Linked DNA regions of Homo sapiens. The protein of the gene in region 4 interacts with the protein of the main gene of each other region in a pairwise test. Each region holds a gene or a part of one and is shown on either strand. Other genes may lie near its edges.

Region 1 (2,767 bases), on a different chromosome or scaffold from region 4:
CTCTTTTTCTGTTTCTTCCTCTTGGAGAGTGAGGGCTCTCGCTCTTGAAACCGTTTCTAGAAACTGTTCTGAGAAAACTTGTCTGATTCCTCCTAGACTCTCCGATGACCCTCAGGCTGGGTTAGGCACTTCTTCTCTGTGGCTCCAGGGGCACCCTGTGCTTGGCCTTTTCATAGCACTTTTCACATGTGCTGTGGGGTTGAGTGTATCTATTTCACAGTATTGTTGTGGGATAATATATGTAAAGTAATTGAGCTTGGTCTAGGGTTTTGTTATGGTGATTGTCTACTTGTCAGTCATGTCCATTGTAAGCTTTGAAGGAAGGGACTGTATCTTTGATACCTTGCACTGCACCCAGGACATGAATATTCAGTAAAATTCTGATGAAAGAATGAATGAATTGAATACAATGAATTAAAGAGAAGCAAAGGTAGAGGATGAGTATGCTTTTCTTGAACCATTTAAATCTATATAAATAATAAGCATACAATTCCTGATAATTTCAGTGAGAAAAATTCTTTATTTAAAATAGGCTAGATTTTTTATACTAGATTAAATAAAATACTCTATAAATGAGAATTTTAAATTAAATTATACCAAACCCAGTAATACCAGTCAGGAGTTTTCCACCAATCCCCATTTAATAAAGTTTAAATGAATTAGCTTAGAATTATGAGGATATTTGCCTTTGCTTAGAGAAAAAAGCAGTGCCATGTTTCCTGAATATAATAGTGTCATGCTGGTAAGAGAAATTCTATAATGCTTAAGACAGCTAAGAAAAAGTGATGATCAAATGCTGAGACCCTTAGAACCTTGCTCTGATGTTATTAATAGTGTTTCTAAATCACAGAGACAATTGACACATTTTATTTCAACAAGATATTGAAAGCAAGAAGGGGACCTACACTATTTCTAGCCACTTGCATTTATTAATATATGCTTAGCGCTTTTAATGCCTTTGCTGCAGAAGGGTAATAAGTGTTTTAGCAAAAAGGTACACTGTGGGGACAAAGCTGGGAAGCTTGTGCATACAGAAAGTAGCTAATATCTTAGAGCTGTCAGGGCTCTTGGAAATGCCATGCGTCATGCATCATCTCGGGCTCCTGGGCTTTGTTTCCTGGCATGGATGTTTGCAGAGAGTTTGGGGCCATCGTGGTATCCATGGTTGCTTCTTCCTGGAAATCCACGGATGTGGTCATGTCAGCATCGTAGGTCCTATAAACATCAGCTAATTCAGGGGTCATCAGTGGGTCAGCAGCTGCTGGGGTGACGCTGGGGAGTCCCTTCATCTTCCCTGAAGGGCTCCTTGGCAGGCCGGGAATGTCATCCTTAGGGAGAGCAAGGAGCCCTGCGTGGGGAGCAGGTTCTAGCTCTGTAAGGAAAGCTGGGTTTTCTAGATTGTCTGGGTTGGCCTCCGGCATAGGGGAGCCTTGTGCACCTCCTTCTTCGTTCTCAGGGCCTTTGGTGGCAGCCACTGGGGAGTCAAATTCCAGAGTGAAGTCACCGCCCATAGCTGGGTTGTGGGGCATTCCCTCAAAGCCGGGCCTCATGCCTCCAAATCCTGGAAACATGGCTCCATAGGCCATTGGGTCTTCTCTCCCGCCCTGGAAAAAAAAACATTCGTCAAAGATGCCATCATCACATGCTATTAACTATACCATGCAGCTATACCTGGTCACATTCACCAAGGATCTCTAAAAAACTGGTGGAGAATAGGAAGTTGGCTGATTGATAGCTTTGTGTAAGCTCATTTCTCACTAAACTGGCTTTGAAACATAATGAAGAGGATTCTGCACTTATCTGGGTGGATCTCGGCATGATTTCCGTAAAAGGGAGATAACAGGGCAGAAGCAAGACTTGAGGCAAAGGTGAGTTTGAATTTAATTTTAAGAAAACAAGCAGTTGAAATGAGTACTACCATCACAAAACAAATAAGAACTGAAATTCATAACTGCATTTGTTGAGCGAGAATCTTGTCAATGGCATTTTTCAGTGTCCCCCAAATGAAGTTCCATGTACTTTTTTTTTCTTTTAGGGGTCTCATTATACGGCCCAGGCTGCTGGTCTAGAACTCCTAGGCTCAAGTGATCTTCTTGCCTCAGCCTCCCTAGTAGCTGGGATCACAGGGGTGAGACACTGCACCCAGCTAAGACTTTAATTTTTTTAAAGCACAAAGTTTAAGAAAAAAAATGTGACTTCCCTGGAGTAACTAAAATATTTTCTTCTTGTGGACAAATAGAATACCAGCACTGACCATGTTTCTTTTTCTACCTTTGCTGCCAGAAATATGGGGTCCAAAATCTTAGGCTGTTTGTAGCAATTGAGCAGGCCTGTGTGACTTGCATATCTGTATTCTGATTTTCTTGAAATTATGACTCATTTTAAATCCTACTTTCAATTTTTTGTTATATTTATTGTGTGTTTTTCATAAGCTCTACAAAATCTTTTGGGAATGAGGCAGAATAGAAATAATTAATACTATGTGATGGCAATTAACACTTACTTGAATTTTGAACTTCCAGCCACTTGTATTGGTGCTATATAGATACAATACTCTTTCCTTCTCCTTTCTCCTGACTCTTCATTCTCTCTCAGCTTTCACATCATCTCCTCCAGGGATGATACTGTGAATCCCTGGACTGGGCTAACTGCCCTTCCTCTCTGACTCTTTCTCTCTAATAAAATTGTTATTACTTTTAGCCCATGATTTTGACATTAGGTATCTGCCCTTGTACCTATCTTTTCCATTCATTAGACTGTAAGTTCC
Region 2 (2,587 bases), on a different chromosome or scaffold from region 4:
CAAGGGGGCCTGATCACCTCAGGTCAGGAGTTTGAGACCAGCCTGGCCAACACAGTGAAATCCCATCTCTACTAAAAATACAAAAATTAGGCCGGGCGCAGTGGCTCACGCCTGTAATCCCAGCACTTTGGGAGGCCGAGGCTGGTGGATCACCTGAGGTCAGTTTGAGACCAGCCTGGCCAACAGGGTGAAACCCCGTCTCTACTAAAAATACAAAAATTAGCTGGGTTTGGTGGCACATGCCTGTAATCCCAGCTACTTGGGAGGCTGAGTCCGAATTGCTTGAACCTGGGAAGTGGAGGTTGCAGTGAGCCAAGATCATGCCACTACACTCCAGCTGGGTGACAGAGCAAGACTCCCTTTAAAACAAAGAAACACAAAAAAGAGCTGGGGAGTTCTCGGTTTTATTCCTGGCTCTGCTACTTCCTTGCTGTGTGACCTCCATTATGTTACTTGAACATCTGTAAAGTAGAGCTACCCACCTCCCAGGACAAATTAAGATGTTGTATGTAAATTGCCCTGTATGGACCAGACCTGCATTCATCCACTCATTTATCCAGCTTTTCTTTCAGTAAATGTATTTATCTCCGGCACTCAGCATCAATGGAATGGAATCGGAGATGCCTTCCTCCTAGGTGGGAGTGAGGAACACTCCTACTCCCCTCCCCTACTTCCAGGTCCCATTTTCAGTGCCCAAGATCCCCCTGGTATTCCGAGGACACACCCAGCAGGACCCGGAAGTGCCTAAGTCTTTAGTTTCCAATTTGCGGATCCACTGCCCTCTGCTTGCGGGCTCTGCTCTGATCACCTTTGATGACCCCAAAGGTAAGCTCATGGGGAGCCTCAGGAGGGAGGTGGGGAGGGTTCCCAGTACTGACCCTGTTTCCCACCACCCAGTGGCTGAGCAGGTGCTGCAACAAAAGGAGCACACGATCAACATGGAGGAGTGCCGGCTGCGGGTGCAGGTCCAGCCCTTGGAGCTGCCCATGGTCACCACCATCCAGGTGATGGTATGACAGAATCCTGGGGCATGCAAAGCATGCCATGCACCTGGGCATGGGGAAGTGGAGCTGTGTCTGGGACCACCCCTTGCTGTCTCCCCCTAGATGTCCAGCCAGTTGAGTGGCCGGAGGGTGTTGGTCACTGGATTTCCTGCCAGCCTCAGGCTGAGTGAGGAGGAGCTGCTGGACAAGCTAGAGATCTTCTTTGGCAAGACTAGGAACGGAGGTGGCGATGTGGACGTTCGGGAGCTACTGCCAGGGAGTGTCATGCTGGGGTTTGCTAGGGATGGAGGTGAGGGCTATGCAGGCCTCCTGCAGGGGAGAGGGTATAGGGTGTGCAAGATTACGGTGCAGGGAGAGGAGAGGGCTTGATGCTAAAGGCCCACCCCTCCTTGCTCCCCACAGTGGCTCAGCGTCTGTGCCAAATCGGCCAGTTCACAGTGCCACTGGGTGGGCAGCAAGTCCCTCTGAGAGTCTCTCCGTATGTGAACGGGGAGATCCAGAAGGCTGAGGTAAGCAGGAGGGGTGAAGAACAGGGGCTGGGCTGGGTAACCTGTCTGCCTGCCAGGAACTTGCCCAATGAAGGATCAGAGGCCCCAAACCCCACTGACCTACCTACCCACCATCAGCCTCTCCAGGCCTCCCGACCTCATACCCCCATGGGGCACTGCCTGCCCTACCCCCAGCCCCCAGCCCTTCTCCCATGAGCCTTTGCCATCTCCTGGCTCCTTTTCCAGATCAGGTCGCAGCCAGTTCCCCGCTCGGTACTGGTGCTCAACATTCCTGATATCTTGGATGGCCCGGAGCTGCATGACGTCCTGGAGATCCACTTCCAGAAGCCCACCCGCGGGGGCGGGGAGGTAGAGGCCCTGACAGTCGTACCCCAAGGACAGCAGGGCCTAGCAGTCTTCACCTCTGAGTCAGGCTAGGGGCCTCCCCTTCTCATCCTCCCCACCCCCCCGCCAAGGTTCTCACACTGGCCTGGGCTTGGGTGCCCATATAGGAGGTCTGTATGTTCACCAACAGTGCGGAGGGGTCACACATTGCAAAACACTGCCCAGAACAGTAAAAAGAGCCTGCATGCCATGATGTTCTTCCTCATTTCACTCATGAAAGGAAACGTGATTTGGGCATGGAAAGAGGCAGGGGGCAGGAAGCAGCCCAGATCTTCTGCTGGCAGCACTAGCCTTCCAGGAGCTCACCTTCCCTCCACTCTCAGAGGCAACAAGCAGGACCCAGGGTTTGGCTTTTTATTGACACAAACACACAAAGGCAGCTGTGGTAATGGGGTGGTGGGGTACACAAAAGCAGAAATCGCACTTCACACATTTAGGCCTCATTTAGACAATGAGGAGGCTGAGCCTGTCCCTCCACCTCCCATTGCAATGGTTGGGGCAATAACCCTCCCTAATCCTAGCTCAGTGAGTAGAGGGAGTGACCTCCCTACCCAGGAAGTCCCCATTTTGGTTGCAATGGCCCAGGTCCTGACCATCCCACTCTGTACTTCCCTGCTCCATCTCCCCACCCATGTAAACAGAGTTTTGGGCTGAGTTTGATAAGCTGCCTCTCTGCTTTGAGAAGGCAGT
Region 3 (3,098 bases), on a different chromosome or scaffold from region 4:
CACGTGAAGCTGGGGTTCCATTTTCTACATTAAACAACATTGCCTGAGAAATAAATAGACCCCAAGTTAGGAAATCAGGCTAGAACTTTTTTCTTTAATTCACTAAAGCTATAAATTAGACAAAATAGGAAGTCAGTTTTTTTTTTCAGACTGAGTCTCGCTCTGTCACCCAGTGACAATACTAGAGGGCAGTGGTGTGATCTCGGCTCACTGCAACCTCCACCTCCCGGGTTCAGCTGATCCTCCTGTCTCAGCCTCCCAGGTAGCTGGGACTACAGGTGTGTGCCACCACGCCTGGCTAATTTGTGTCTTTTTTAGTAGACATGGGATTTCACCATGTTGGCCAGGCTGGTCTTGAACTCCTGACCTCAAGTGATCTCCCCACCTCGGCCTCTCAAAGTGCTGGGATTACAGGCATGAGCCACTGCGCCCGGCCACGGAAGTCAGTCTTCTTAGAAGGAATCACGGCACTAGAGAAAATGATGATGGGAGCGACACCGTATAGAAAGACACTTTATTACACTGCCCACTCACACCAGGCCGGGACAGGAGTCACTCCTTAGAACCCCGAGCGGCTGTCCAGGCTGATGGAGGAGGGGACCACTCACCCGCCACAGAGCCAGCCCCCTCACATGGCTTCCTCCCTGAGGAGCATCTCCCACACTGGGGCTTCCAACGATCTTTGCTCTGCGTGTGCTGAAAGGACAGCGTCCAGAATCAGCCTCAGCCTGGACTTCTGTTACCATGGGAGGATAAGCTTGTCATGCTCACAGATGTGCACTCCTAGTGCCACGCCTCTAAACGTCCCCCAGACGGCATTGGGGCTCTCGCCGGGGAGCTTGGCTACTGTCTCGATCCCCGGCCAAGCAGGCCTCATGGCCAACTTTCTCAGTGTCCACAGCAGACAAAAATGTCCACAGCCAGAGCTCCAAAGCTCTGCCGGCCCTGGTGCCACTGCCACCTCTGCGTCCGGAGCCTGTGGGGCTCAGCTCTGCTGCTCTGGCCCAAGTCTGGCCTGGAGTCCCTGGTGCCCTTTGCAAGCACGGAGGCGGCTGGACATCCTTCGCATCACCAGCCTCTGGGCCTGCAAGCGCTTCCGGAGCTTTTCATTTTCCTTCAGAGTGAGGAAGAGTTTTTTCTTCAGGGAATCTAAGTCCAAAAGGGCATAGCTGTGATCAGATGGCTGCTTGTTGGGGGTCCTTCTCAGGCCTGCAGGGCCAGTCGGCCGGCCAACAGCCTCTGTTGCTTGCGGCCTCCGTGGCGAGACCTGAGGACAGGGGAGTGAGAGCCTAGAGCTGCATCACCAGCAGGAAGGCGGGCCATGGTGAGCAGGCCACCAGACACGCACACAGCACAACCCCAGGGCAGCTAGACACTCCGGGCTGCTCCCCCAAAATCCAGATGTGCCCACACCATGGTGGAGAATTTGACTGGGGAGCTCTGAAACCCAGGCTGCACACCCTGCCTCGGCCACACAGGTCTCATGGTGGGTGCTCACTGGTTTCCATTTTGTTTGGAGCAAGTCATCTTGTGTCCAACCACAGACCACCTTTGCACTCAGTCTTACCTGTTTTACGTGGCCTTCGGCATTTGGGGGCAACTGAAGCTCTTCAAGTGCAGTGTCCATGTTTCTCCCAGGACTGTCCTCTCCGGCCCCCGCCTCAGGGAGGACCTGGGAACGGCAGGGTGAAGTCTGCACTACAGCCCTGCACATGCAGGGCCCTCCTGCAGCTGCTACTTGTCCCTCTAGGGGAGTGGCAACAGCCAGGGACCAGCTCCAGGGTCTGTGCCCCTCCACAGCCAGCTTCTCCCTAGCACACACCCTGGAACTGAACTTTTTTTTTTTTTTGAGACAGTCTCGCTCTGTCACTTAGGCTGGAGTGCAGTGGTGCAATCTCGGCTCACTGCAACCTCCACCCCCAGGGTTCAGGTGATTCTCGTGCCTCAGCCTCCTGAGTAGCTAGAATTACAAGCATGTGCCACCACGCCTGGCTAAATTTTTTTTTTTTTTTTTTTGAGACGGAATCTAACTCTGTCACCCAGGCTGGAGTGCAGTGGCATGATCTCGGCTCACTGCAACCTCTGCCTCCCGGGTTCAACCAATTCTGCCTCAGCCTCCTGAGTAGCTGGGACTACAGGCACATGCCACTACACCTGGCTAATTTTTTTTTTTCTTGAGATGGAGTTTCACTCTTTCACCCAGGCTGGAGTGAAGTGGTGCGATCTCAGCTCACTGCAACCTCCGCCCCCTGGGTTCAAGTGATTCTCCTCCAGAGTAGCTGGGATTATAGGCATCCACCACCATGCCCAGCTAAATTTTTGTATTTTTAGTAGAGACGGGGTTTCGCCAGGCTGGTCTCGAACTCCTGACCTCAGGCAATCCACCTGCCGCAGCCTGCCAAAGTGCTAGGATTACAGGTGTGAGCCACCAGGCCCAGCCGAATTTTTGTATTTTTAGTAGAGATGGAGTTTCACCATGTTGGCCAGGCTGGTTTCGAACTCCTAACCTCAGGTGATCCGCCTGCCTCGGCCTCCCAAAGTGCTGGGAATACAGACGCAAGCCACTGCGCCCAGCCCGGCTAATTTTTATATTTTTAGTAGAGATGGGGTTTTTACTATGTTGGCCAGGCTGGTCTCAAACTCCTAGCCTCAAGACATCCACCCGCCTCAGCCTCCCAAACTGCTGGGATTATAAGCGTGAGCCACCTCGCCCGGCCCTGGAACTGAACTTTAAGAAATCAGGCACGGCCAGGTGCGGTGGCTCCCGCCTATAATTCCAGCACTTTGTGGGGCCAAGGCAGGAGAATCCCCTGAATCCAAGAGTTTGAGACCAGACTGGGCAAGATAGCAAGACCCCCATTTCTAAAAAAAAAAAAAAAAAAAATTTTTAATTAGCTGGGCATGGTAGCACATGCTTGTGGTCCCAGCCACTTGGGAGGCTCAGGTGGGAGGATGGCTTGATCCTGGGAGGTTGAGGCTGCTGCGAGCCATGACTGCACCACTGTACAGAGCCTGAGCAACAGAGTGAGACCCTGTCTCAAAAACAAAGAAAAAGGTTGGGTGCAGTGACTCACATCTATACTCCCAGCACTTTGGGA
Region 4 (3,500 bases):
AAGAAAATGCATGTGTGAGGGTAACTAAGTTGTTTAAGGACATTACTGAAATACACCATGAATATAAGTAATTTTCAGGCTGTAAAAACATGGCTGAAGCCAACCTGTCAACAACACATCTTCCTTTCCTAAAATAGAATTAACCTGACAAAATAAATTGTGTCTCAAATACCGTACAGGCGGATGCTAAATACATGCAGAGGCTATAAAACAGTAAAGGCTTTACTATTAATGATTTTCCATTTTACCATTTTAACAATGCTGCAGAAACTTATTACACTGTATTACATTAAAGATTCCCTCTAATAATTCAACAGTTAAGTAAAATTTAAGAGAAAAGGCTTTAATTAATGAATTTGGAGAGCAAAAGATTTTCATGGCGCCAGATTTAGCATACAACAACCTCTACTTCACACTCTGGGAGACGTGCAACATGGCACCAGTGAAACGTTACGCCTGCTTACTAAAAATATAAAATGCAGAATACCACAGTACCTCTTTGTAGTGATTTTTCTGCCATTAACCATTTTAGTTGAAGTTGATATCGATTTGAAGTTGCCCATGCCACTACCACCAAATGACGTGGAAGAGAATGAAGTGAGGCCCCCGTGACCTAGTGACCCAAATGAAGTAAATCCTACAGGAAAACAGAAAAGAAAAATGCTTAAAGAAATATGTCAACTAGTAATGCAAAGACAAGAGTTTGAAAGTTCAGTAGCAGAATATTTAATGTTAAGGCATAGAACCGAGGAGTAATAAACGACGCAACTATCAAGGCCTCAGCTGAAGTGCTGGGGTGCCCAGGGGGAAAGACTGTCTCTCAGATCCCTGAGTGGGGACTCTAGGGCAACGCGAGAGTGCAGCCTCTCCCCTCCCCCTCTCCTCATGCAGAGCTTCGCGGGACCCAAGCAGCTTTTCTGACATGCCAAAGACAGCCCCTGCTTGTGGGTGGTCTGCTTGGCACCATGAAGCACGTGTTGTGTTAATGTGAACATTCTGGAACCGAGACCAGTATTAAGCTCCAACCAGCAGAGCAGCCTCGGTATCAAGCTCTGTTTGCTTTGGCGTGGCTTGTAAACTCCACAGACTGTGATGGACACTCTTACCCCACAGGAACAGAGTGACCTCACCACCACAGAACAGCAAACCTAATCGGCTTCCCTCCTCTTTGCCACAGGACCACAGGGGATAAGAATCTAAATTATTAAAAAACTAAAATAATTGCAGAAAGAATACAAGTATTCGTCTCAAAAAACTATGGTTCTACAGTTCATGAACACCATTCTCAATTATACATTATGGATATTATCGCAGTGTGGACACTAAAAACTTTCACAAGTCACACTAAAGCAAACCTATTTTTCGATATTAAAGCTGGTCTACTGGTTAGAGCTTTTGTCCTGTTTCCAAAATGCTCCCATTAACACAAATGACGCATACCTCTGAACATGATTCAATCATCTAAGCGCAGATACTGTCTAGGGCTGGTGGTGTCCTGAAGAAATATGTGAACCAGGTATGTTAAGTTTACCTTTTCTAATGATTTCACTAAAAAGCAGAAACTAGTGACATTAATTTTAGTATTTTATTTAATACAGTATATCCAAAATATTTCAATTGGAAATACAAAAAATCAAAATCATTTGCGGTATTTTACACTGCTTCCCATGTTCCATCTTTGAAACCCAATGACTATTTCACACTCCTGCTGATCTCCGTTAGGAGTAGCCAGGCCTCCAGGGCTCAGGAGCTACACGTGGCTGGTGGCTACTGCACTGGTCTCAATTAAGCCTCGCTAAGTATTTATTCTTGTGATACTTTGTAAGGCACCTCAGAAGTGGAGAAGGCTTACACCCCCACCACACACACACACACACACACACACACACACAAACACACATACAGGAGCCACTGATTACTTTTAAAAAGGACAATTTACGTGGTATTTTTAACTAGCTTTCTTAACCTGTGGTCAGCATATTCCATGGTATCAAATGAGAGGATCTGTTGAGGGAAAGCACATCAAAACTGAGGTCCAATCGAGCAGAATTCACTACTTACCTAGATGGCATGAGCGCAATGTTCAAAGAAAATAAAATTCTGACCATGATGAAGAAGGAACCCTATATAACAAGCTCTCCCAATTCTTATCGTGGAGGCTTAAAAATAAAAATGAGAGAATCAAAACAGCAGCTCCAGGCCAGGAGTGGTGGCTCATGCCTGTAATCCTAGCACTTTGGGAGGCCAAGACGGGTGGATCCACCCGAGGTCAGTTCAACACCAGCCTGGCCAACACGACAAAAACCCTGTCTCCATTAAAAATACAAAAATTAGCTGGGCCTGCTGGTGCACACCTGTGATCCCAGCTACTCAGGAGGCTGAGGCACAAGAATCACTTCAACCCAGGAGGCGGGAGGCTGCAGTGAGCTGAGACCGTGCCACTACACTAAGAGTGGCACTCACTAAAGTGAGACTCTTTTTAAATTTAAAAACAAAACACAACAAAAAAAAAAGCTCCTTTGTGAAGAGAAACTGGATGAGCTTCAGAGAAAAGTGGGATTCTTCAGGCTAAACACACAGGCATATCATGATATATGCATATTCATGTTACTCCAGTCTACAAGCTTGTTTCCATCGGTGAACTATGAAGAGCTACGTGCGTGAGGCTGACACTTCACTAGTGAGTGAGCCTGGCCTGGGCTAGTGGTAAGGCCCAGCCTTCGATTCCATCCAGTGGGATGCTCCTAGGATGCTATTTGTGCACTTTTGTTTTAACTACAAAGGAGGTTAGACAGCATGAAGGTTAGTGAGATTTTCCAACTGCGTTACTTTCCACCTACTGATGCAGAACATATGTTGCCCCTTTTTAACTAAGAATTTCATTACATTCTGGCCTTGATTATTATATTAAGAGGAGAAGATTTCCAAGCACGACATTCTTAGGAAGATTAGGAGAAAATGTAGGTTAAGCGCAGACCTGTATACCAAAAAAAGCTGGCAAATCCACAATGCTATTCTACGAAAGGTATACACATATTTTAAAGCACTCTAACTAAAAGAGTATTATGATTTTATAAGTACTAACTGCTGTTAAGATAACAGAGATTAAACCTAGGGATTTAATACCTGTATCAAAAGAAGAAAATCCACTTCCAAAAGACGGAAATCCACTGAACGCAGAGAAAAACGACCCCGTCCCTCGGCTTCTGCTTCCTCGGGGACCCCTTCGATTCCCAAAGAAGTCCTCAAAAGGGTCTTCTAAAATCAAACATAAACACACACTATGAAGTCTTTTTTTCAAGTTTTTTTCCTCATGTGATAGCTACAGTAAGAGAAAATAGATGTTTGTAACATATTCAGGAACAAAAAACTTAAGAGGTTTTAACAAAAGAGCTTATCTACAGAGTAACTGAAACACTACCTCACCAACAGTTTTACTAACTAGTTTAATTCAACTAAAACTACAATACATTGTATCAAATAAATTACCAGACTTAATT

Evidence for each region. Proteins that work in one complex are often made in the same cells at the same time.
Region 1: the proteins of DNAJB6 (region 4) and AMBN interact in binary tests that used the Homo sapiens proteins (3 or more experiments, as listed by UniProt).
Region 2: the proteins of DNAJB6 (region 4) and IFI35 interact in binary tests that used the Homo sapiens proteins (3 or more experiments, as listed by UniProt).
Region 3: the proteins of DNAJB6 (region 4) and THAP3 interact in binary tests that used the Homo sapiens proteins (3 or more experiments, as listed by UniProt).

Annotation. Positions count from the first base shown.
Region 1 is NC_000004.12:70,605,022-70,607,788, reverse strand, and holds the end of AMBN (ameloblastin precursor), read right to left. Parts: intron 1,605-2,767; coding exon 1,059-1,604; 3' UTR 501-1,058; downstream 1-500. UniProt on the Homo sapiens protein: Involved in the mineralization and structural organization of enamel.
Region 2 is NC_000017.11:43,012,370-43,014,956, forward strand, and holds the end of IFI35 (interferon-induced 35 kDa protein), read left to right. Parts: intron 1-677; coding exon 678-825; intron 826-897; coding exon 898-1,004; coding exon of another isoform or gene 1,005-1,010; intron 1,011-1,106; coding exon 1,107-1,293; intron 1,294-1,406; coding exon 1,407-1,513; intron 1,514-1,738; coding exon 1,739-1,930; 3' UTR 1,931-2,087; downstream 2,088-2,587. UniProt on the Homo sapiens protein: Acts as a signaling pathway regulator involved in innate immune system response.
Region 3 is NC_000001.11:6,630,965-6,634,062, reverse strand, and holds the end of THAP3 (THAP domain-containing protein 3), read right to left. Parts: intron 1,694-3,098; coding exon of another isoform or gene 1,673-1,693; coding exon 1,568-1,672; intron 1,268-1,567; coding exon 986-1,267; 3' UTR 501-985; downstream 1-500. UniProt on the Homo sapiens protein: Component of a THAP1/THAP3-HCFC1-OGT complex that is required for the regulation of the transcriptional activity of RRM1.
Region 4 is NC_000007.14:157,382,004-157,385,503, reverse strand, and holds part of DNAJB6 (dnaJ homolog subfamily B member 6), read right to left. Parts: intron 3,259-3,500; coding exon 3,127-3,258; intron 638-3,126; coding exon 496-637; intron 1-495. UniProt on the Homo sapiens protein: Has a stimulatory effect on the ATPase activity of HSP70 in a dose-dependent and time-dependent manner and hence acts as a co-chaperone of HSP70. Plays an indispensable role in the organization of KRT8/KRT18 filaments.